7 linked regions of the Homo sapiens genome follow. The protein of the gene in region 4 purifies or fractionates together with the protein of the main gene of each other region. This does not show direct contact. Each region holds a gene or a part of one and is shown on either strand. Other genes may lie near its edges. The genes, in order: GPR180, AMFR, PIGO, SLC22A5, TMEM165, TMEM39A and PGAP4.

Region 1 (3,926 bases), on a different chromosome or scaffold from region 4:
GAAGTAAGGGATTCTGGTTCCAGGGGCATCTACTACAGACTTAGGGGTTTGAGAAAGGCTTCTTAAAGTGCCTTGGGAAGGAGGAGTAAAGGAGGAAAAGGAAGGTGAGGAGGTCCAGTGTTGGAATAAGCAGAAGTATTCTAGCCAGAGGGATCAGGGAGTGATATAGGCCTAGAAGGGAGAACTTGGGAGTGTTCAGGAAACCAACGGCGGTAAGGATGGAGATGAGAAAAAACAGACATTTGAGAGTTGAAGAGCCATATTCTAGAGTTTGGGTTGTGTGCTAAAGGCAATTGAGAACCTTTCAAGGCAAGTGCAGCAAATTGTTTCCTACAGCTTTCTGTGGCTGTAGGGTAGAGATGGATTGTAGCCAATTAGAATGAAGACTGTAGAGACGGTCTTTGCCATAGGCCAACAAAGTGATGAACTGAGTAGGACTGTGGCCGCTGCTTCCCACCCTCACCAGAAGAAGGGCTAATCCACACTTGTTATTGAATTGATTGAATTGCGGGGGGGGGGGGGCCTACAATTCCCAGCGGTCTGGTCTGCGGGCGGGGGTGGGGGTGGGGGTAATGTAATTCGAGAAGCCAGAGAACCTAGGAGGGAAAAATCGGCTGGAGATGCCAAGAGAAGGCATGCGTTAAATTGTGGTCATGCGGAGCTAAGTGTCTTTGAGACATTAAATCGGACACGTCCTGTAGGTTATACAGGCGCCAAGGAAGAAAATCTGCATAAGAACACAGTTTTTTCTTTGCGGGAGTTTAACTCTCTCGGCCAGAAACAGTCCTGTCCTGCATTTCTTAAGTTTTTTCCGAATCCCACAAGCCCTTCGAAGGCCCCGCGGACTCGTGCCAGCGCGCCCGCGCATGCTCAGTAGCAAGACGTGCTAGGCAATGAGGAGGGAGATGAGTTTTCCGTAACCTGAAGCAACATCCTCCTGATTCCTCATTAAAGAAAAAGGCGGGAACTAGTCAAAAGCCGGGGACTGATGGGACGCTAGGATCTGCGCGTCCCGCCCATTTCGGCCTCTGACTGGTGAATGTCTTCGGCTTATGGCAGAGGAGCCCGCCTCATTGGCTCTCAGGCTCCAGAGCAGCAGGTCTCCGGCGCCCACCCCGCCTCCCCCAGCTGCCGACGTGGGGCGGGCAGCCGCCGGCGGCTGGGAGCCGAGGCGTCGGTGCAGACCTGGAGACGGGCATGGGGGGGCTGCGGCTGCTGGCTGTGGCCCTCACGTGCTGCTGGTGGCCGCAGGGCAGCCAGGGTAAGACCCTGCGGGGCAGCTTCAGCAGCACCGCGGCCCAGGACGCCCAGGGCCAGCGCATCGGCCACTTCGAGTTCCATGGTAGGTCTGGGGGCGGGGAGGGGGATGAAGGCGCGCTGGCCCATCCCGCCGGCTGAGTCCGCCGGCCGCTCCTCCCGGCCCCTCCCTGCCACGTTGGGCGAGGCCGGCGACTTCCCCAGCCTCACCTGGACCTCCAGCGTTGCAGCAGCTGCCGCGAATGGTGGGATGCGTTCCTTGCCAACCCCGCTGGTGCGGCTTTCCAGCCCCAGGCAGCGGCCTCTCGCCACTAGTGATCGTGTTCCGCACCTGAAAGCTGGTTTCCATTTCCCCAACCCTCCCCTTGGAAGCCAATGTGCAAAAGACTGGTCGGCCGCATCTTTCCAGATCCTTCCCGCAAAGAAGCATATTTGCTCCTTCCTGTCTCGGCCACACTGTGACGGGAGAATTTAACCCTAGAAACTTAAATTTCCTTTTTTTTTTTTTTTTTTTTAAAGACCAATTTCCTGAGACCTACTTGCAACAGAGTGGTTTTGGAAACCAAGTAAAACACTTGATAATGTAGTTGTTATATTGAGCAGTTTGGTTACTTGGCTACTAGGGCAGTAGATTTACTATGGGCAGTAAGGCCTAGAATTAAGCTGATGAAAATGCATTTAAGTAGCATCTTGGAAGCTCCCTAATTTGTGTTCTGTGTGGCTCTTCTGAAATCAGAGTTGCGTTTGATTTCAGACCTTTTGGTCTTCCTCAAAAATCAGTAATTATTCCTTCAATAAATGCATTTGCAATTCATTCTAATTTTGGTCTCATTTGCACTCTCACAATTTAAGTGTTTTTCTTGGTACTCTTAATTTGACTAGTGCTGTATTTCAAATAATTATTTGCCTTGATGACATTAGGAACTTTGATTTGTACAGTCTTTAGCATTAAAAGATGCAACGATGAACATCAGAATATTGGCCTAGAAAATATTGTTAGGAGAAGATAATAGAAACGGAACTACTTTGGTGAGAAAAGGAATTTAAAGTATTGGGAAATTACAGAATTGACAGAATAAAGGGAAGGGATCCTGATTTTTTTTTTTTTTGAAGTTTTTAAGATAGCTAAGAAAAGGAGTTTCAGTAACCCAGTTTTTCAAAATCCAATGTGGAATATATTTTGGGTGAATGAAGAAGAAACACTAGAAACAATTTTATTATTTTTTGTAACATTTTGAGTTTCTCATTCAACGGACTGTAACCATACTTTGAGTATTGACAGCCACTGTCTTAAATGGCACAATGTGGACAGTGTTGGAAAATGTGGGATGTATAGAAGACGTGGGTTATTACTTAGGACCAGCAGAGAGACTTGGACGACCTCATAGTTCCTGATGATCATCTGGTAAACGTGGAGGAGAAACATGTACTAAATTCAGATTTCTCAAGACAGATTGGGGATAAGGTGTTTCAAGTGCGTTCATTCTGTTTCATATGTGTAAAATCACATATAGTTATTACCAATTTTCATGAATCCCAATTCAGTAAAATAATAATACAAAAACTATACTGAAACAATGAACTGTAACTCGGAATGCAATTTACAGTGTCAATTGGGCCTCAGAGTCACTTGTAAGACTTCAAAATATGTAATCAATTTATGTAAGAGACTTGCACATTCTTTGATATATATACTGTATATTTAAATATATTTAAAATGTTTAATCAAAGTGGTAATTATAGTAATAAAAGCATAGAAAAAAAATTTCCAGGAGAATAGAAGATCTTAAAATGAAAAACAGTCTCCTGTCTTAGCTCTTTCACCCAGAATCCCTTTCCCTAGAGGCAATAACTTACTGCCATTTCTGTTCTGGGCCTTAAATGTAGTTGGTGTGTGCAACCAGGTTCATTCTGTATTCATCTTACAACATATATTATTCTGAAAGTTCTTTTTTTTTAAAAAGGAAGCCAGACTCGTTGGGTGGCTCCTGCCTGTAATCCCACCACTTTGGGAGGCAGAGGTGGGCAGATCACTTGAGGTCAGGAGTTCAATACCAACCTGGTGGCTGGGCGTGGTGGCTCACACCTGTAATCCCAGCACTTTGGGAGGCTGAGGTGGGTGGATCACCTGAGGTCAGGAGTTAAAGACCAGCCTAGCCATCATGGTGAAACCCCGTCTCTATAAAAATATAAAAATTAGCCAGGCATGATGGCAGGTGCCTGTAATCCCAGCTATTTTGGGAGGGTGAGGCAGGAGAATCGCTTGAACCGGGGAGGCGGAGGTTGCAGTTAGCTGAGATCGTGCCATTGCACTCCAGCCTGGGCAATAGGGCGAGAATATGTCTCAAAAATAAATTAAAAAAAAAAAAAAAGACCAACCTGGCCAACATGGTGAAACGCTGTCTCTACTAAAAATACAAAAATTAGCTGGATGTGGTGATGCTGGGTGTGGAGGCGCATGCCTGTAATCCCAGCTACTCCTACTCAGGAAGCTGAGGCAGGAGAATCAGGAGAATCGCTTGAACCTGGGAGGTGGAGGTTGCAGTGAGCCGAGATTGCGCCACTGCACTCCAGCCTGAGTGACAGAGTAACACTCTGTCTCAAAAAAAAAAGAGTTTTGCTCTGTCACCCAGACTGGAGTGCAGTGGTGTAATCAAAGCTGACTGCAG
Region 2 (2,797 bases), on a different chromosome or scaffold from region 4:
TACAAAGAGGAAACAGTAAACACTACTAGGCCTTCTTCAAATCTGTTGCTGGGTTAAGATTTTCATATCCACCTATGTAATTGGATTATGCATCATTTGTGAAATGGTGCATGGCTTCTAAGGGGTCCATGTCTACATTTCCAGTTTTTTTTTTTTTTTTTTTTTTTTGAGACGGAGTCTCGCTCTGTCACCCAGGCTGGAGTGCAGTGGTGCGATCTCGGCTCACTGCAAGCTCCGCCTCCCGGGTTCACGCCATTCTCCTGCCTCAGCCTCCCGAGTAGCTGGGACTACAGGCGCCCACCACCACGCCTGGCTAATTTTTTGTATTTTTAGTAGAGGCGGGGTTTCGCTGTGTTAGCCAGGATGGTCTCGATCTCCTGACCTCATGATCCGCCCGCCTCTGCCTCCCAAAGTGCTGGGATTACAGGCGTGAGCCACCGCGCCCGGCCTCCAGTTTTTGAATAGCTGGCGCAGCTGAGATATGGATGCTGTGGGCTTGGGGGCATCTGTGGGTACAGCATATTCAGTCCCTGTCTTGATTTTCCACTGCTGCTTCTAGAGTTAGCATGAAGAGTTCTGGATTTTATATATATATATGTATATATAATGGAGGAAAGTATGTATTTCACAGGGAACCTTGCTGTGCAACATTTTTGGTCATTTGTGAAGAAATACAAAGTCCTTGAATAACAATTAGTTAACAGAAACCTCAGTGTAGCCCAGTAAGCTTGTCAGCTCCACTCTCCCTCTGTTCTAATCTCTGCCCTGCCCCGCTCAGGCTGGTATTAGTCAGGCATGCAGCTGCACAGAGCAGGGGTTGCGGTGGGCGGCTGTTTTCTTTCTAACATCTCGCCTCTTCACTCACCATTTTTTCTAACCTGCTCTAGGGTCAGGCTTAGAGGAGAGGGATAGAATAGGACAGTGAGACTCCAGCGTGTGTGTGCGTGTGTGTGTATGTACCTACATGTTGTGCCAACTACGTGTGTCTGTGTGTGTGTGTGTACATGTTATGCCAACTATCTCCCTGTCCCCATCTGGCCCCAGAAACTCCTCCTTTGACCCTGGGCTGGCTATTGATGACCACTCCCACCTTCATGGGGGTCCTGTTACCTCTCCAAGTGGTCCTTTTGGGCACAGTTGTTTTCAACAACCTTAGGTTGGTTCCCTCCTGCAGGAGCCCTATCCAAGCTCCAGGACACACACAGTGTTGTCTGGAGTCAGTGGAAGGTGAACGTGCTCCCGTCACAGCTCCCCTGGCCCTGTATTTTATTGGCTCCTGCCAGTTTCTTTCTGTAGATTTCTCAAGTGTATGCAGCCACCAGTTCCCCCGTCCTTTGACTCTCGGGGATACGAATGGTTCTCTTGAAGTTCCCTCTCGAGCTTAGCTGAAGGCAGGAAAAAGTGAGGGTAGGTCCAGCAGGAACTCTGAAGTAAAACAGCCTGCCTCTCAGCTGCACCCACCTCCATTCTGTCACAGCCTAGAAGCGGGCAATGGGCTGACCCTGGCCAGCGCAGGTCTGCATCTGGGAGCATGAGCAGCGCAGATGGTCAGGCACCTGCTAGGACCTGGGGGTGCCTGGGCATTGTCGTGGACTTTGGAGCTTCAACCAAAGCCAAGGAACCATATAATCCATCCTGTGTCTTTTCAAAAGATCCTTAGGGCTGGGCACAGTGGCTCATGCCTGTAGTCCCAGCACTTTGGGAGGCTGAGGTGGGTAGATTGCTTGAGTCCAGTAGTTTGAGACCAGCCTGGGCAACAAAGCAAAACCCTGTCTCTACAAAAAATACAAAAATTAGCCAGATGTGGTGGCACGAGCCTGTGGTCACAGCTACTTGGGAGGCTAAGTTGGGAGGATCCCCTGAGCCTGGGGAGGTTGAGGCTGTGGTGAGCAGAGATTGTGCCACTGCACTCCAGCCTGGGTGACAGAGTGAGACCCTGTCTGTAAATAAATAAATAAATAGATGCCTAGCAGTTTTCCTTTTTACCTCTGTTTTCAGAGTCAATTGAGGATATAAAATTTGTGCAGAAGATTGGATAAGACTGGTTTAAATGTTTGAGCAATTAGTAGAAGTGAACAGAAAATTCCCAGGATGTAAACTCACGGTTGTCGTGTTGGTAGCGTATTCTAAGAGTGCAGCTTGAAGGTGCTTACGTTTTTCATGCTGGTAATCATTTACTTACCCTCTGATGCCGAACATTCTGTGTGAGTCAGGTCCTGTTCTTAGTACTACTCAAGCCATAGGCAGCAGGCCTGCCCTCAGGGAAGCTGCTGCTCCATTATCCGTAGCTTGTGGTTCCTAGTTTCTGCCTCCCTGCTTGGCAGCAGCCTTCTCTTTGCGTCCAGAACAGCCGTGTCTGGGGTGCCCTGTAGGTGAGGAACCTGCTTAGGAGGGAGGCCTGTGCTCACAGCTGCCTCCTTGCTTCCTGCCCCGTGTCCAGACCGAGCGTGTGCCACTGGACCTCAGTCCTCGCCTGGAGGAGACGCTGGACTTCGGCGAGGTGGAAGTGGAGCCCAGTGAGGTGGAAGACTTCGAGGCTCGTGGGAGCCGCTTCTCCAAGTCTGCTGATGAGAGACAGCGCATGCTGGTGCAGCGTAAGGACGAACTCCTCCAGCAAGCTCGCAAGTGAGTCGCTTCTCCAGACCACCTGGCATAATCCAGATCAAAAACTAGTGGCTGAAGGCCGTTGTCAGGCCGTCTTCTCTTTTTAAACAGATGCCAACAGTGAAACGGCATTACATGCCACCCCAAAACTCAGATTTCAAGCCTCTCTTGAAAAAACCAGAGCATCTGGTAA
Region 3 (2,702 bases), on a different chromosome or scaffold from region 4:
TTGGCCCCCAGGGGACTTGTGGAGCGTCTGGAGAATGACACACTGCTGGTAGTGGCTGGGGACCATGGGATGACCACAAATGGAGACCATGGAGGGGACAGTGAGCTGGAGGTCTCAGCTGCTCTCTTTCTGTATAGCCCCACAGCAGTCTTCCCCAGCACCCCACCAGAGGTGAGGCCTGGGATGTTCCTCATCTGTTCTCCCAGTAATCAGCCCATGTTACCATTACAGCATCCTCATGAATACCTCTATTTTAGGCCCCCAAATCCATGATCCTGGGTATCCTCCACTCTCATTTCTTACCTAGGCCCCTATGTCTGCCATCCCAAACATTGACTTCAGCTTTGTGATGAATCTGTTGACCACTGTCATTTTCCTTTAGGAGCCAGAGGTGATTCCTCAAGTTAGCCTTGTGCCCACGCTGGCCCTGCTGCTGGGCCTGCCCATCCCATTTGGGAATATCGGGGAAGTGATGGCTGAGCTATTCTCAGGGGGTGAGGACTCCCAGCCCCACTCCTCTGCTTTAGCCCAAGCCTCAGCTCTCCATCTCAATGCTCAGCAGGTAGGTAAGCGGGCTGGGTTTCCAGGTGACAGAGCTAGGGTGGGCATGAAAGAAGCATAATGAACCACTCTTTTGTCCTTTGACTAGTCTTAGTCCCACCTTCCATACCTATCCCTCTTCCGTTATCCCTCCCTTCCCCGATTCTGGACAGAGTTTGGGTCCTTGACTTCCAGGTACCCCCTTTTGTAATACCTATTCTTGCCTCTGCCCCAATTTATGTCTCTGACCTGTTCCCCTTGGCCTCTGACCTTTTCTCTGCCAGGTGTCCCGATTTCTTCATACCTACTCAGCTGCTACTCAGGACCTTCAAGCTAAGGAGCTTCATCAGCTGCAGAACCTCTTCTCCAAGGCCTCTGCTGACTACCAGTGGCTTCTCCAGAGCCCCAAGGGGGCTGAGGCGACACTGCCGACTGTGATTGCTGAGCTGCAGCAGTTCCTGCGGGGAGCTCGGGCCATGTGCATCGAGTCTTGGGCTCGTTTCTCTCTGGTCCGCATGGCGGGGGGTACTGCTCTCTTGGCTGCTTCCTGCTTTATCTGCCTGCTGGCATCTCAGTGGGCAATATCCCCAGGCTTTCCATTCTGCCCTCTACTCCTGACACCTGTGGCCTGGGGCCTGGTTGGGGCCATAGCGTATGCTGGACTCCTGGGAACTATTGAGCTGAAGCTAGATCTAGTGCTTCTAGGGGCTGTGGCTGCAGTGAGCTCATTCCTCCCTTTTCTGTGGAAAGCCTGGGCTGGCTGGGGGTCCAAGAGGCCCCTGGCAACCCTGTTTCCCATCCCTGGGCCCGTCCTGTTACTCCTGCTGTTTCGCTTGGCTGTGTTCTTCTCTGATAGTTTTGTTGTAGCTGAGGCCAGGGCCACCCCCTTCCTTTTGGGCTCATTCATCCTGCTCCTGGTTGTCCAGCTTCACTGGGAGGGCCAGCTGCTTCCACCTAAGCTACTCACAATGCCCCGCCTTGGCACTTCAGCCACAACAAACCCCCCACGGCACAATGGTGCATATGCCCTGAGGCTTGGAATTGGGTTGCTTTTATGTACAAGGCTAGCTGGGCTTTTTCATCGTTGCCCTGAAGAGACACCTGTTTGCCACTCCTCTCCCTGGCTGAGTCCTCTGGCATCCATGGTGGGTGGTCGAGCCAAGAATTTGTGGTATGGAGCTTGTGTGGCGGCGCTGGTGGCCCTGTTAGCTGCCGTGCGCTTGTGGCTTCGCCGCTATGGTAATCTCAAGAGCCCCGAGCCACCCATGCTCTTTGTGCGCTGGGGACTGCCCCTAATGGCATTGGGTACTGCTGCCTACTGGGCATTGGCGTCGGGGGCAGATGAGGCTCCCCCCCGTCTCCGGGTCCTGGTCTCTGGGGCATCCATGGTGCTGCCTCGGGCTGTAGCAGGGCTGGCTGCTTCAGGGCTCGCGCTGCTGCTCTGGAAGCCTGTGACAGTGCTGGTGAAGGCTGGGGCAGGCGCTCCAAGGACCAGGACTGTCCTCACTCCCTTCTCAGGCCCCCCCACTTCTCAAGCTGACTTGGATTATGTGGTCCCTCAAATCTACCGACACATGCAGGAGGAGTTCCGGGGCCGGTTAGAGAGGACCAAATCTCAGGGTCCCCTGACTGTGGCTGCTTATCAGTTGGGGAGTGTCTACTCAGCTGCTATGGTCACAGCCCTCACCCTGTTGGCCTTCCCACTTCTGCTGTTGCATGCGGAGCGCATCAGCCTTGTGTTCCTGCTTCTGTTTCTGCAGAGCTTCCTTCTCCTACATCTGCTTGCTGCTGGGATACCCGTCACCACCCCTGGTAAATATCTCAGCTCTGATTCACTTAAAGACAATAGTGATGTGAGTTCGGCCCCTCTTGTTTTCAAGGAGGTGTTGCTCCTCATGTTCCTGAGCTTGACAGAGGGTCCCATGCCCCACACAACTAGGAAGGTCTTCTTGGTGTCCTCTCTCTTACCTGCCATAGCCAAGCAAATTGATCCCTCCTGTTGGTTCCCAGGGTTCATGGAGAGGAGAGACAAGGAGTCCTCTAAGACTCCCTGTGGAAATGCTGCATCCTCATGAGCACATTTCTTGATTTTCCAGTGATGGAAGTAGTAAATTGTGAATATATAATGGCACTGAGCTGTATGTGTTTGAGAGAAAGAAAGA
Region 4 (3,500 bases):
GAGTTTGAGACCAGCCTGACCAACATGGAGAAACCTTGTCTCTATTAAAAATACAAAATTAGCTGGGCATGGTGGTGCATGCCTGTAATCCCAGCAACTCGGGAGGCTGAGACAGGAGAATCTCTTGAACCTGCGAGGCAGAGGTTGCAGTGAGCCGAGATCGTGCCATTGCACTCCAGCCTGGGTAACAAGAGTGAAACTCCTTTTCCAAAAAAAAACAACAACAATAAAAAATATCTGGCTGCGCATGGTGTCTCACGCCTGTAATCCCAGCACTTTGGGAGGTTATGGAGGGAGGATTGCTTGAGGCCAGGAATTAAAAACCAGGGAAGATGCTGGGACTCCTTTCCACCGGCTAACCCACCGATTTGTGGGGTGTTCTCACATGTGTCATGTGGCCAAGGACTTGCTGAAGGCTGCTACTCTCTTCACAGTCTTCTCTGACAGACCCTGAAGCTCCAGGGAAAGAAGACACAACATAATGGACCCCTCTAAGAACTTCATGAAAGCTACGGACCTCTCTCCAAAAAAATGCTCACATGTAGTCTCTAACATTGTGCATATAATTTCGAGGGGTTTGGGATTCTCTAAGCCGTTAATGTTTCCTTGAGTTAAAAGCTTTAGAATTATACAAATAACCTGCTTATAAGAAATGGATCAAAACACTATTCTCCCTCCTGTCATAAAGTAAATGCCAAAACCACAGGCCACTTAGCTAAGGGGCATCAGCCTTGTGGACAAAAGAGTTCTGCTTTTCATACCACTAGTGGCTGGTGAGAGCTCCTTTCACTTTGCAGAGAGAATGCTGGTCTTCTTGGGACTACAGAGGCAGACACCGTGGCACTACTACAGATCTACAATCTAGCACATGTGCATGTGTGCATGATGTCAACCTCTCCCATGCTCAGGGGCATGACAGAGTCACAGTGACCCAGGGGAGGCAAGCCAGGCTACTGCAGAAGTGAATCATGGCATATTACCTAGTCAACCGGGTCACAGATACATTCAGCTTAGACAGCTCAGGTTTCTTTACTTAGCAAGAATTACGGAGTCAGATTTGTTGGCTCTTCTTACTAGGCATGGAGTCTATATCACAGACATAGCTTCCTCTTCTTTAAAATACAGGGCCCTGCGCTGAAAGAATACTACCAACTGAAATCAAGGGCCAGGCACACGCTTCTTCCTCAGTGCTGAGGTCCCCTGGTGCTCCAGAAGACAGACACCTTACCTGTCTGACAGCTGCCCTGAAATGAAGGAGCCCAACAGCACACCCACGAAGAACAAGGAGATTGTGAGTGGGGCCTTCCAGTCGTCCTCACACACCAGGTTCCACTGCAAGATGAGCAAAGGGGGTGTATCATTCACTTCTTTTTAAAAGGTTTTAAAGCAAAGGCATCCTGGAAAATGAAGTCAGAACATCCTGCCATCCCCACACGCTCTGAGTGTGAACTCACTTAGTCAGGTGATGGCTCACCTGGGCAGGAAGGCAGAGAGCAGGCTTCTTTCCCATCCTGTTTTTCATAGCATTGTAGGCCCCACTGTCTTGCTTCCATTTTGAGGAGGAGAGACAGGCAGAGAGTAAGTGTTCTGTCCACATGCTGACCCTGGAGAAAGCAAGGCCTCTAACGCTTGCTCCTAAAAATCTGAGCGGAGCCCAGGGCTGTGGAAGAGGCAGGGCACCCTCGCTCAGTGGGGTTCAGGCCATTGGCATGAACGTCACTGGAGTGGTTCTGGAAGCAGGGCTCTGGGGCTCTACGGGCCAAAGCATCCAGCAAGAAACTAAGGCCAGGGCACAGAGTGCACCATCTGGACCTGCTCTGCTCGGGTTCCCACCCTGGGCCAATGACCCCCGGGTCCTTTTTGTGACCTTTAGAGCTGGAATCCCTGATGCTGCACACCAACTATACTAGGCTCAATTACAGCTGAAAGTCCTGAGCTTGGAGGTAAGAAACTGGGTTTTAGCTCCCACTCTACTATTAAAACTCTTCCAACCTCAGATAAGCATCACCCCATGCTGTGCCTTGATTTCCCCATTTGTAAAACAGGGATTGGGGTAAGGAATAGGCTGCACCGCTTGAGTTTCCAGCTTCCAATGTGTGGTTCCATCTATAGTTACCATGAACAGAAAAAGAGGTCTGAAGACATGGGGAAGCAGCCAGACGCTTGGATCTGGCTGCGCCTGCCTAAACAAGAGCCAAAAGCAGGAAGAAAGCCCAAACGGGAAACTTAGTGGTTCACAGAAAAATGAAAAATGTTTTTCAGACAGAGAGATGGTGCTCAGTAGTAACCTTTGCAGACTTCTCACATGAGCAACCACCCTCCTAGGAACTCAGACCCTTGCCTCCCTGGTGCCAGGCTGCTAGCCTGCCCTCCACGGAGCCTGCTGGCTCCTCACCAACAACGCAGGCAAGGGGACATGCGGCTCCCTAGAACAAAGCATCTCTTCCAAGCCAGTGACAGGGAAAAACAAGCCTGCTTCTCCGCACTGCTGGGCAGTGTGGGCGCACAGCCTCCGGGCACCTCTCAGAGGGGTTGGCAGGCAACCCTCAGGCTGGACACGGAGAACTCCCGCAGCAGGCACACTGCTGGTGCTCCGCTTTGGAATAAGCGTGAACCTGGATGGGCTGGGAGTAGGGTGGCAATCCCCAACCCAGGGAAGAACTGGAGCATCCAACCCCTAATCAGGAGGCAGCCCAGACTAGCAGGAGTCAAGAACATGGGAGGACCACAGCCTGACTGCCCAGGCTGCCACAGCCTCCAACCTCCACAGCCTCAGAAGGGCCAGCACCCACAGGCCATCTCTCTGGTAGGTGGGTAAGTATCCCTGCAGTGGCCCCCACCCACACATGGCTGCTAAATCTAGGACTGGGAGTGGAGGCGGAGAAAAAGCTGAGGGAATTGATGACAGGGTGCCGGCCTCTGTGTGTGAGGCCAAGCTTCAGGGGCCAGGACCTGGCTCCTGCCACTCTTGAGTATGATGGGCTCTATTTCCCAGCTAGCATGTCTTTTATAGTGGAAAAGATGAAAACATGAACAAAGGGTCAGCAGCGGTTTCTCACAGGACTATCATGAGGTGAGGGTTGGGGACCCATATGGCTGAGCTAGACTAGCAATCCACGTGGGCTTCTGCAGTGAGTTCTGGGGTTGTAGACCCCAGGACAGGTCTCCCAATATCAGGCTTCTAAAGACTCCTTGGCTGGCAAGGTTGGGTGTGACCTAAAACCAGGTCAGACAATCTCTGCAGGGGACAGGGTGACTATAGTGCTCATTTTGAGATAGGCCCCAGAGCATCTCTCAGGCTCCCTTAGCCCCACCCTCTCTACTTGGTCCAGCCTGTCCTTAGTCTAGGCAGGTGTGTAACTCCTTGGTTAACTCTGCCATCCACCCACCACTGACCGCCCTTGACAACTCTCTGGGCCTGGCTTTGGGCCCTCCAAAAGCAAATATGCATTAACACTTCTTTCCTATTGGCCGCAGGGGGTCTGTGAGCAGGATCAGGA
Region 5 (3,500 bases), on a different chromosome or scaffold from region 4:
GAATTAAGAGAACTAAGCTTTTATCATCTGCTGGATATAATGTGATTTTGTAACCATTATTGGATTGGTGTTGGTTTAGACAGTTTATTTTCAGCTGACTATATAGTTAATTCCGGGACTCTTATAAAGTTTTTTTTAAAAAGAGAAAAAGAGAAGATCAAAAGCACTGGAACTCAACGAGTAAATAACCCATGGTAACAGAGAGATATAATGCAGTGATGTCAGAGGTGTACAAGAAGTGTGAATCATTTAACATGTGAAGCCAGGGTCTTTAGTCCACTTGGGGAGAGCAAAGAGGTGAGTGGGCTTCTCCATCTTTTTCCTTCTGCCTGCCCTGCTACCCCCAGCCATATGCTTAGGAGTGGGGTTCCCATTTACACTGCCCTGCTTGTCGCTCCTGGCTCAGCTGACCCTGCTTGACATGTCCACTTCAGTAATTGAACTGAAACGCTGATTGATGAACTTAATTCTTAGTGTTCATCTTTTAGCCCTGTCATTTACCCCAGTATCACATTTATTTTAAAACAATAACTATTTTGGATTAAGTTAATTGTGTGAGTGAGAGATTATGAATATGTAACTTTGCAGGTATTTTGTTGAAGTTTTAGTCATATTGGAATTTTTAAGATAGAAATGATGGTAGGTGTAGAGCTACTAATATCCTTTTTAAGAAGCTAGGAAAAATCTAGCCATGCAGAATGCCACAGTGGTAGAAACAGTGTCCAGTAAACATATTAAATGGTCTTAAGGATTCTTGTCTTTTAAAGTTTTATTTAATTTTTTTTATAGAGACAAGGTCTTCTTATAGCTCATAACTCATTGCAGCCTCCAGCTCCTGGACTCAGGCCATCCTCCTGCCTCAGCCTTCTGAGTAGCTGGGAAGGGATCCTTGTCTTTAAAACTAGGGGTATGGAGGGAAGGGTGGGTATAATATAATATGATTTTTCCGTTTAATATTTTCATATATTCTTGGTGATTCATTTTAGTTAGGCATTTATTTATTATTGTTTATTCTAATTTTGTATTATAATAGAATATAATTGTCTTCTTTTCTTCCTTTTTTTTTTTTTTAGAGACAGGGTCTCACTATGTTGCTCAGCCTGCCCTCAAACTCCTGGGCTCAAGGGATCTTCCCCTCTTGGCCTGCCAAAGTGGTGGGATTACAGGCATGAGCCATCATGCCTGGCCTTGTCTTGTTTTTATTTTATATATATAATATATATAAAAAATAATATATAAATATATAATTTATATTTATATTATATATTAATATATTAATGTAATTAATATTATATTATATTAATATATAATATATAATATAATATTATATATTATATATAATATTATATATAATATTAATACTGTATTATATATAATATAATATTAATTATATTATATTAATATAATTAATTATATTAATATAATAATAATAAATAATATTAATATAATTAATATATTTATATTAAAATATAAAAATATAATATATATAATATATATATATTTTTTTGTCTCACTCTGTCGCCCAGGCTGGAGTGCAGTGGCGTGATCTTGGCTCACTGCAAGGTCTGCCTTCCAGGCTCACGCCATTCTCCTGCCTCAGCCTCCAGCATAGCTGGGACTACAGGCGCCCGCCACCATGCCCGCCTAATTTTTTGTATTTTTAGTAGAGACGAGGTTTTACCGTGTTAGCCAGGAGGTCTCCATCTCCTGACCTGGTGATCCGCCTGCCTCGGCCTCCCAAAGTGCTGGGATTACAGGAGTGAGCCACCACGCCTGGCCTTAATTATATTTTTATGTAACTTTTTGATACTACTCAAGTATTTTTTCCTCTACGGTACTCACTATGCTGAAAGATTTTTCTTTCACATGTTTTCTAAACTATGTAATATAAGTGTCATTGGCTATTTTTGTCCACCTGATGGAGGTAAGAAATGATCAAAGTACAGTTTAACAGCAGTATTAGCAAGAGTTGAGCCTTGCTGAATATGTAAGTTTCAACGGATTTGCTTTGCAACTACATGCAGTAGATGTTTTAAGAGGGTAGGTAGGATATTTAAATTTAACCTTTTTGTGCCACTGTGTGAGAGTGGGCTTCTGAAAATGGAGGGGGGAAGCATCTCTCCTTGGTTAGTAGGCATTCAAGTGGAAGATATGTTATAAAAACCTAGTTGTATCTTATAGGATGCTAAAAGCAAGGTGACTGAACTTCTAACAGGGCATTCTACATTGAGTATGTGCTTTTCTCTATAATTAGGCTAAAAAAAGGTTGGTAAGTAATATGAACTTAAAATCAAGATTAACCCCCAATTTACAAACCCATGATAAAAAGTGTTGTTGATTACTTGGATCCTATCTTTTCTGCAGTTTATGTTTCTAGTGACTTACTCAATAGTTTTTTCTTACTCTTTCCCTGGACAGAATATGTAATATAAGAAACATAAGTCCTTTGAGTTGAGGGAGATCAGATAGATTTAATAAAAGTCATTTAGACTTTATTGCATATTCTGGAAGTCCAAAGAAGAATGACTCTGGTTGCATAGCACTTCTAATAAAGCCACAAAATCATTACCTGACTCAGTGCCTGTTCTTGTTATCATATTTTTACTTTATGTTTTGGTATTTCATTTATTTATTACGTTTCAGCTGTGAGAGTACCTTCTACAAAACATTTTAAACTTTTTTCTATTTTCATTAAGTTGCAGTCCCACTCCACCCAGTCCAGCCTCCTAATTCTAGCCTTTATACAGCTAAGATTGAGGCAATCAGTTATAAGGACGCCTGCTCATAATTACCTTCTCAGAAGGTAATTATATTAATACTGAATTTATTTAGTGGTATGCTGTCATCAAAAAAATTCATTAAAAATAAAATCAATGAAGGCCGGGCGCAGTGGCTCACGCTTGTAATCCCTCCACTTTGGGAGGCCGAGGTGGGTGGATCACCTGAGGTCAAGAGTTCTAGACCAGCCTGGCCAACATGATGAAACCCCATCTCTACTGAAAATACAAAAAATTAGCTGGGCGTGGTGGCACACACCTGTAATCCCAGCTACTCAGGAGGCTGAGGCAGGAGAATCGCTTGAGCCCGGGAGGTGGAGGTTGCAGTGAACCAAGATCGTGCCACTGCCCTCCAGCCTGGGCAACAAGAGCAAAACTCTGTCTCCAAAAAAAAAAAAGAAACTAAACACATTTAATAAATTTCAAGTGCATAAATACATTACAAAACAACATTCATAAAAATAAACATTCATTAAAACAAAAAATAATTTTATTACAAAATATTACATATAAATTCTAATATAAATTAACAAGTAACAATAAAGTATTTAAAAATAGTGAAACCATTCACAAAAATACGTAATGAAAATTAAAATACTTTAATGTTATCTTTCGAAATCAGGTTTATCTGTGGTGTCATTGTTTAAGTGCGTGCGTGTGTGTGTGTGTGTATATATATATATATATATATATATATATATTTTTTTTTTTTTTTTTTTTTTT
Region 6 (3,500 bases), on a different chromosome or scaffold from region 4:
ATAAGAGCTGTATAGTGATTTTCCTCCTAAAATATCTAAATTAGATGGATAAAACCTATCATAAATCATCTTTCCTTCCTTCCATTAAAATATGTTTTCCTCCTTTTTTTGCATATATCACAGAAAGGATCCCTACCCTGAGAAAGATCAATAATATTTAAGGAGAGGCTGCTGGTAATTAATTCATAAACGGAAATGCTATTCAGAGAGGACTACCTCTCCACGTAGGTAGAGTCCGTTTATTCACCTTCAGGCCAGCTCTGCCTGTTCACCTCCAGGCTAACTCTACTTCTATACTTGCTTCACAAGACTAGAAATAAATTTAGCTGTTTTTTCACCAACCTGAAGCAACTCTCTTTTTAAAAATTGTTTTTCTAGGAAAATAGTATATTTTATTGAAAAAAATTTGGAAAACACTAAAATATAAAGCAGGACATTTAAAAATTGCTCACAATCTCATTATTGAAGACCACTTTTTTTGGGGGGTGGGGGGCAGACAGAGTTTTGCTCTTGTCGCCCAGGCTGTAAATGGCATGATCTTGGCTTACTGCAACCTCCGCCTCCTTGGTTCAAGCGATTCTCCTGCCTCGGCCTCCCAAGTAGCTGGGATTACTCCTTGGTTCAAGCGATTCTCCTGCCTCGGCCTCCCAAGTAGCTGGGATTACAGGCGCCCACCACCATGCCCAGATAATTTTTGTATTTTTAGTAGAGACAGGGTTTCACCATGTTGGCCAGGTTGGTCTCAAACTCCAGACCTCAGGTGATCCACCTGCCTCTGCCTCCCAAAGTGCTGGGATTACAGGTGTGAGCCATTGCACCCGGCCAAAGACCACATTTTGCTATATTTTCTTCTGATCTTCATATGCGTATGAAGATTTTATATTTACATTTATTTTACTATATTTGAGAATTATTTATATACAGTTTCATATCCTGTACTTTAAAATTAACATAATGTTATGAATATTTTTCTGCCCCTCACCTAGCGAAATCTTGCTTATCCTTTAGGTCTCAGCTTAAATACCGTTTACTAACACAAGCCATCTCTAGAATAGGATCTCCTGTTATTTACTTTCCATAGCAGCCTACTCTTCCTATAGCACTCATTACAATTAAAAAAATGATTAGATAAAAGTTTAATATTTGTTTTTCTTGGTTAGTCAGCTTCATAAGCACAGGGGTTTTGTTTGTCTTGGTTACCACTGTACCCCTAGGACCTGGTAAAGGGTCTGTGACATACACCACAGTGATTAGCGGCTTGGGGCTCTGGAATAAGGCAAAATTAACAAATCCAAGCTCTGTGCTCTGATGACATTGGGCAGAAATAGTCTTTTTTATTTCTAACCCTGAACTTTTGAGAAGGAGGTAATAGAGTAACTCCAATAGCTTAAATAACTTTACTAAGCTTTGATATGTGAGGTAAATTGGCATGAAGGTATGTATCAGGGGAGTTATATGAAGCTATGTGCCAGGCTATGACTGAGAAGAGCTTGAGCCATCTTCACAGTTTGAGGCTTAAGCCGTTCATTATGGCATTTATTCAACTGCTGCTTTGCATTTTAAAGTAACTATATATTACGTATATATGCTGTATATATATAGTATTCAGTATACAGTATATTGCGTATATGTTATAGGTACTCCATAATATGATCTGTAAACTAAGAAACGGATATATAGGAGGGACCTGAAAAGCTCCTTATCCCCTACCATGTACTGTTGACTCTAGATAATTTTTTTCTCCTTTTTGGGTTCCATCACTGCTCTCTTAGAGGTTATGGGGATCTTCCATTTTCCCCTACATTTTGCTCATTCTCTTCTCCCTAGTTCATTCAGAAAGAAAATGGCATTGCAGAGTAAGTTTTGACAAGTACTTAATATATTTAGTCAGTTTTAAAGATTTGCGATTGAAGAAGCATATTTGAATAGCTGTGATAAAAAGAATTGGAAGTGATTATGCATTATTTCCATGTTTGCAAAAGTTAAAAAAGAAACTTATTTATATAGGGATCTGTCAAAGAAGATCGGATTATTTTTTGAAACTTCACTAATTTATTAAACATTAATTCACCAAGCAAATTAGAGGTGAGGATTCAAAGAAAAATAAAAATATTGTTACTGCTGTTGAGGCCCTTTATAGTTTAGTGGGAAGTAAGACAGATAAATTAGTGTCTCTCCATGTTTATGTACATAAAAAATCAGGCCGGGCACAGTGGCTCATGCCTGTAATCCCAGCACTTTGGGAGGTGGGTGGATCACGAGGTCAGGAGTTAGGACAATCCTGGCCAACATGGTAAAACCCTGTCTCTACTAAAAATACAAAAATTAGCTGGGCGTGGTGGTGTACGCCTGTATCCCAGCTACTCAGGAGGCTGAGGCAGGAGAACCGCTTGAACCCAGGAGGCAGAGGTTGCAGTGAGCCAAGATTGTGCCACTGCACTCCAGCCTGGGCAACAGCAACAGAGCGAGACTTTGTCTCGAAAAAAAAAAATTAAAAATAAATAAATAAATAAAACACTGGTTAAGTTGTTAAAATATAGGTTGCTTGACTCAAGATTTTATTCCTTACCCCTTGAGAGGAAAGTTGTTAGGAGTTTACATGTCCAATTAGTAGCCCAGGTCATTCTGATGGAACAAAATAATGTGATCCGTGGAACATACTTTGAGAAGCTCCAATGTTAATAAATTAGATGATATAAAAAGACCTTAAAAGAGTTCTGTAGATGGCACTCTCGGGGTGCAAGAAGGAAACAACTGTGCCTGGAGAAGTCTGAATTTTCAATTATTACGAAGATAAGGTGGGATGGGGCAGTTTTTCTTTTATTTCACTTTTTAAAGACACATTTTAGCTTCCACTAAACCTATTAAGTTCTTACTTGAATTACAATGCTTTTGAAGAAGATCATTTACAAAATGTTCATTTTGGTGCTTCCAAACTTTCAGGCTACTAAGGCAGGTGCAGCATCAATGATTCACTACATGGTTCTGATATCAGCTCGCTTGGTACTACTCACTTTGTGTGGATGGGTACTTTGTTGGACCCTCGTCAATCTCTTTCGAAGCCATTCAGTCCTCAATCTCCTTTTCCTTGGCTACCCGTGAGTACTCCAGTTTTACCATGTTATTAGTAAATCTTTAGAAATTATTTCGGTCACGTAAACGATACTTTTAAGAGTGAAAAATGAAATTCTTCAAATATAAATGAAGCATTTAGAAAACTGGGAAATCCATGAGCATGGTGAACATATAATTTGTTTTCTAAACTGGAGTACAGTTGGGACAACAGGCATAAACCAGGACTGTCCTGGGAAACCTGGAATGTAGGGTGTGTTGCCAGTGGAGAATATTTTAATTGTCTCTCTTCACCAAGTAAAGGCCCCTCTTGCTATCTATATTTGGGTAAACGGTAGTTAATTTTAGATGAATGCACTGGTTCGAAAACCAGTCTTACCCTTGGTTGGTCATATTACTTTGATCTTCTGTTTCCTGTAACAGAAGTA
Region 7 (3,500 bases), on a different chromosome or scaffold from region 4:
TAGGTGGGTGTGGTAGATTGCATTAATGTTCAAAATGCCCCTCCCTGGAGTACATTTTCTGCCCCTCCCTGGAATACAAATATTTCTCCAGTCATTGGTCTCAGGTGTGGCCATGTATCTTTTGGCACTCCCTTCTGCTCTGTTGAATTTGAGTTATTATGTGATTTGTTCCAGTCAGTGAAATGTGGGTGGAAGTGATCTGTGTCACTTTTGAGCAGTGGCTTTGAGAGCCAGCTTGTGGTGCACTATTCCCCTTTTTTCTCTCTACCACAAAACCAGCAATGTTAAAAACAAACAAACAAACAAACAACAACAACAACAAAAAACAGTTCTATCTGCCTGGGTCCTAGAGTACAAACAACAGGCAACAGAGGCACAATTGACCTGTAAAGGACAAGTACTATGAACAAGAATTAAACCTTAGTTCTTATAAGCCACTGAGATTTTGGGGATCATTACTGAAGCCTGTCCTTATTCGTGTAGTGTGTAATGATTGGGGTTGGGGGCCGGGTCTTAAGCCCTGTAAGCATTCTAAAAAAAATTTCCATACTCCGTGAGCAGATTGCTAGATGCTTTCTTTTCTCCTGAGGATTTAGAAATTGGCCTGTTGCCTTTTTTTTTTCTATTGAATCTTCATTTTCCCCTCCTTCTGCTCTGTGGGAGGAGTAAATCTTCCTGTCCCATTGTTTTGGCCAATGAATGATGAGTGGACTTGATTTGTGGCACACTGAAACAAGGATGTAAATGTACCTGCATGTTTTGACTTGGCCTCTTGTGCAGCTTCCAGGCAACGTAAGAACACGCCCCAGGTGGCTGTTTCCTCTGCAGCTTGATCTAGAAGGAGGGGCATGTGGCATGAGCTAATTCTGACCTACATTCTGGAGCTGACCCCAACTGAGCCACAGCTATCCACAAACCCGTATGCAAGAAATACATGTTATCACTTTAAGTTATAAAGATTTGAGGCTGTTAATCACCCCAGCAAAGCTGATCAATATAGGTAGGGACCATGTGTCCTCTGAACCAAATCCCTCTCTTTTCCTGATTGTCAGTAGAACAGCAGTCTCACAGACGTAGTTTTAAAGTAAAGGACTATGTGAGATGTTAATGATTTTATTGTCCCCAGTAGGATAAATTCCCTGGGACCAAAGGTTCTCCTGATGTCAGTTCTAGGTGTTTCCATTTCTTTCCCCCCTGACATATCATAGTAAGTGATAGCCTTTACTATGTGCCTGGCATTTTCCAAACTGCCTGCCCTATCTCATTGTCTCTAGTTCCCTCCTCTAGATTGATCCAGCTCCCTTGTGGTAATAACAAAGGCAGGGATAATAGTATGAGCAGAAATCCACTCGAATGCCTCCTTTTCCAAGGCCAATACTGCAGGAGTGGGAGTTCAGCCCAATTCTAGTATTGGCTTCCATCAGCAGTGATGTGGAAGTGGTGAGGCCACGTTCAATCACGTTCAACCACATGGTTTGTTAACTCCATTGCGCTGAGCAGAGCAGAGGAAGAAGCAACCAGTCTGCAATATGCTGGATGTTCACAAACCAGCAAGACTGGGGTTGCATAATTCAAACCTCTCCTTGCTTTGTTCCCTCTTTGGGTACTATCCAGATCTCTTAGTACTAGGATAGTCTGTCTCACCTTTGGAGTCCCATAGTACAATCTGCTTCTGTGGCTGAAATGAAACTTGTTTCTCTACTTGAGAAATTAACCATGTCACTGTACATTTGGTATTCTACACAACTGTAGAGGGCAGAGTAGGCTAACTGCTGTAATAAAGTCCAAAAATTATTGGTGTCTAGACACAGTGGTTTATGTATTGCTCACAACACAGTCCACTCTAGTTTGGGAGGGTACTGGGAGGTGGGCAGCGGAAGGGACATCTGTTCCATGCCGTCCCAACACTGGGATATGTATGTAAAGGATTCAAGGACCCAGGCTTCTGCCATCTGGTGGCTGTACCTCCTCTAGATCCACCAGGGCTCTCCATTCAGCTGGCAGATGGGGAAAGAGAAAGTCGAGATGGCACATCTGTTCTCAACTACCTTGTCCCAGGTGTGACACCTGTCACTTTGCTGACAAGCCCTAGTCACATGACTCCACCTGGAGAAGGCAAACTAGGAAATGAGGTCTTTCTGTGTGCCCAAGGGGAGACCATGGATATGAGAGCACTGGCTGAGTCTGCTCCACAGCAGCCTCGTATGGTTCCTGGGCAATCCTCCCTTTGCAATAACTCACAAACTATACAGTTTTCCTCCAAATGTGTGTAAACCTTATGATGCGTCTGAGGCAACAGATTTACTTTCTGTACTGCAGACACCATTTAGTTTTGCATTGACCTTACTAGCAATTATTATTTTATACTGGCTTTGCCCTTTTCATTCTGTTTTTTGGCACTAGTCTGTTTTCCATCAGAATATTAGACCTGCTTACTTCTAAAATATTTTTGTGAGTTTGAACACATGGATAGATTTTAATGGCATTTTTACTCTGCATTATTTTGCTTTCTAACACATTTAATATTCACAGTAACCCTATGAGACAGATATTATTATTTCCATTTTAGAGCTAAGAAATATAAGATATGGAGAGGTAAACTTCCCACCAAATGAGAGGCAGAGCTAGGATTCACACCAATATGAGCCTGGCCTCAGGCCCATGCTCTGAATCATCATATCACACAGCATTTTTTCCTGGACCAAACTGAGGGCAACTGTCTCTTCCATATTCACCTCTGCCTTTCCCCCCCCGCTCCCTCATTGAAAAGCTACTCATGGATCTTCCTCCAGATGTTTCCTCCCTCCCCAAGCCTGGGGCTCTAGAGTTTGCTTGCTTATGGGAAATACTTCCTCTCATTGGTTCCCATGATCTATAAAAATAAAATGGGAGAACAATCAGGATTAAATTAATATGCAATGTTAAGTATAGTTGTGTGAGATTAGAAGCATATGAATGGAAAATGACATTAAATAACAAAGATACTTCAGAGAATCCTAAGTATTCCTTCTCTTGTTGGACAAGTTTTTTTTGGAAATTGCTATATGCACAGTTAATCAACAAGTATTTTCTGGGCCCTTATTCTGGAACTTGCTCTAAATGTGTATATTTCCTTTGTGCCAAGCCTTGCTTTTTTGCCCCCGTTTTAAGAACCCATTGTCTGTGTAGCTGGTGAATAGAAATAATGATCCCAACAGCCTACCTGGAGATTTTCTGGCATTGTAAACCTAACTAAGTATCTTTAGGCGTGATGATTTGGTTGAATGCACCGAGATCGTATTACTCATAGAAATAATAAAAACATCCAGAGGTTGTTAGCAGACACAACCAAAGAATGGTTTACTGTAGAAAATACTTTAGAGTCTGTAGAAGCTACAGAGCCTCCTATTATAATTTCTGGTTTGATATGTGCTGAGCTCAGTTCTTGTCCTTTTGTTTTTTTGTTTGTTTGTTTGTTTGTTTTTTTAAGTTACTCTTACCATTCCCTACTTCCTCTCTCT

What was found.
Region 1: the proteins of SLC22A5 (region 4) and GPR180 purify together in Homo sapiens (affinity purification with mass spectrometry; one large-scale study listed by BioGRID and IntAct). This does not show direct contact.
Region 2: the proteins of SLC22A5 (region 4) and AMFR purify together in Homo sapiens (co-immunoprecipitation; 2 studies listed by BioGRID and IntAct, with this or other methods). This does not show direct contact.
Region 3: the proteins of SLC22A5 (region 4) and PIGO purify together in Homo sapiens (affinity purification with mass spectrometry; one large-scale study listed by BioGRID and IntAct). This does not show direct contact.
Region 5: the proteins of SLC22A5 (region 4) and TMEM165 purify together in Homo sapiens (affinity purification with mass spectrometry; one large-scale study listed by BioGRID and IntAct). This does not show direct contact.
Region 6: the proteins of SLC22A5 (region 4) and TMEM39A purify together in Homo sapiens (affinity purification with mass spectrometry; one large-scale study listed by BioGRID and IntAct). This does not show direct contact.
Region 7: the proteins of SLC22A5 (region 4) and PGAP4 purify together in Homo sapiens (affinity purification with mass spectrometry; one large-scale study listed by BioGRID and IntAct). This does not show direct contact.

The regions. Positions count from the first base shown.
Region 1 is NC_000013.11:94,600,731-94,604,656, forward strand, and holds the start of GPR180 (integral membrane protein GPR180 precursor), read left to right. Parts: upstream 1-1,126; 5' UTR 1,127-1,197; coding exon 1,198-1,342; intron 1,343-3,926.
Region 2 is NC_000016.10:56,363,749-56,366,545, reverse strand, and holds part of AMFR (E3 ubiquitin-protein ligase AMFR), read left to right. Parts: intron 1-2,440; coding exon 2,441-2,625; intron 2,626-2,797. UniProt on the Homo sapiens protein: E3 ubiquitin-protein ligase that mediates the polyubiquitination of lysine and cysteine residues on target proteins, such as CD3D, CYP3A4, CFTR, INSIG1, SOAT2/ACAT2 and APOB for proteasomal degradation.
Region 3 is NC_000009.12:35,090,890-35,093,591, reverse strand, and holds part of PIGO (GPI ethanolamine phosphate transferase 3, catalytic subunit), read left to right. Parts: intron 1-11; coding exon 12-171; intron 172-382; coding exon 383-562; intron 563-824; coding exon 825-2,352; intron 2,353-2,702.
Region 4 is NC_000005.10:132,376,210-132,379,709, reverse strand, and holds part of SLC22A5 (organic cation/carnitine transporter 2), read right to left. Parts: intron 1,547-3,500; coding exon of another isoform or gene 1,475-1,546; intron 1,333-1,474; coding exon 1,229-1,332; intron 1,226-1,228; exon of another isoform or gene 1-1,225. UniProt on the Homo sapiens protein: Sodium-ion dependent, high affinity carnitine transporter. Involved in the active cellular uptake of carnitine. Transports one sodium ion with one molecule of carnitine.
Region 5 is NC_000004.12:55,398,957-55,402,456, forward strand, and holds part of TMEM165 (putative divalent cation/proton antiporter TMEM165 precursor), read left to right. Parts: intron 1-3,500. UniProt on the Homo sapiens protein: Putative divalent cation:proton antiporter that exchanges calcium or manganese ions for protons across the Golgi membrane.
Region 6 is NC_000003.12:119,446,616-119,450,115, reverse strand, and holds part of TMEM39A (transmembrane protein 39A), read left to right. Parts: intron 1-2,943; coding exon 2,944-3,098; intron 3,099-3,500. UniProt on the Homo sapiens protein: Regulates autophagy by controlling the spatial distribution and levels of the intracellular phosphatidylinositol 4-phosphate (PtdIns(4)P) pools.
Region 7 is NC_000009.12:101,477,174-101,480,673, reverse strand, and holds part of PGAP4 (GPI-N-acetylgalactosamine transferase PGAP4), read left to right. Parts: exon of another isoform or gene 1-3; intron 4-750; exon of another isoform or gene 751-834; intron 835-3,500. UniProt on the Homo sapiens protein: Golgi-resident glycosylphosphatidylinositol (GPI)-N-acetylgalactosamine transferase that catalyzes the N-acetyl-beta-D-galactosamine transfer from an UDP-N-acetyl-alpha-D-galactosamine to the 4-OH-position of the first mannose of the glycosylphosphatidylinositol (GPI) of a GPI-anchored protein (GPI-AP).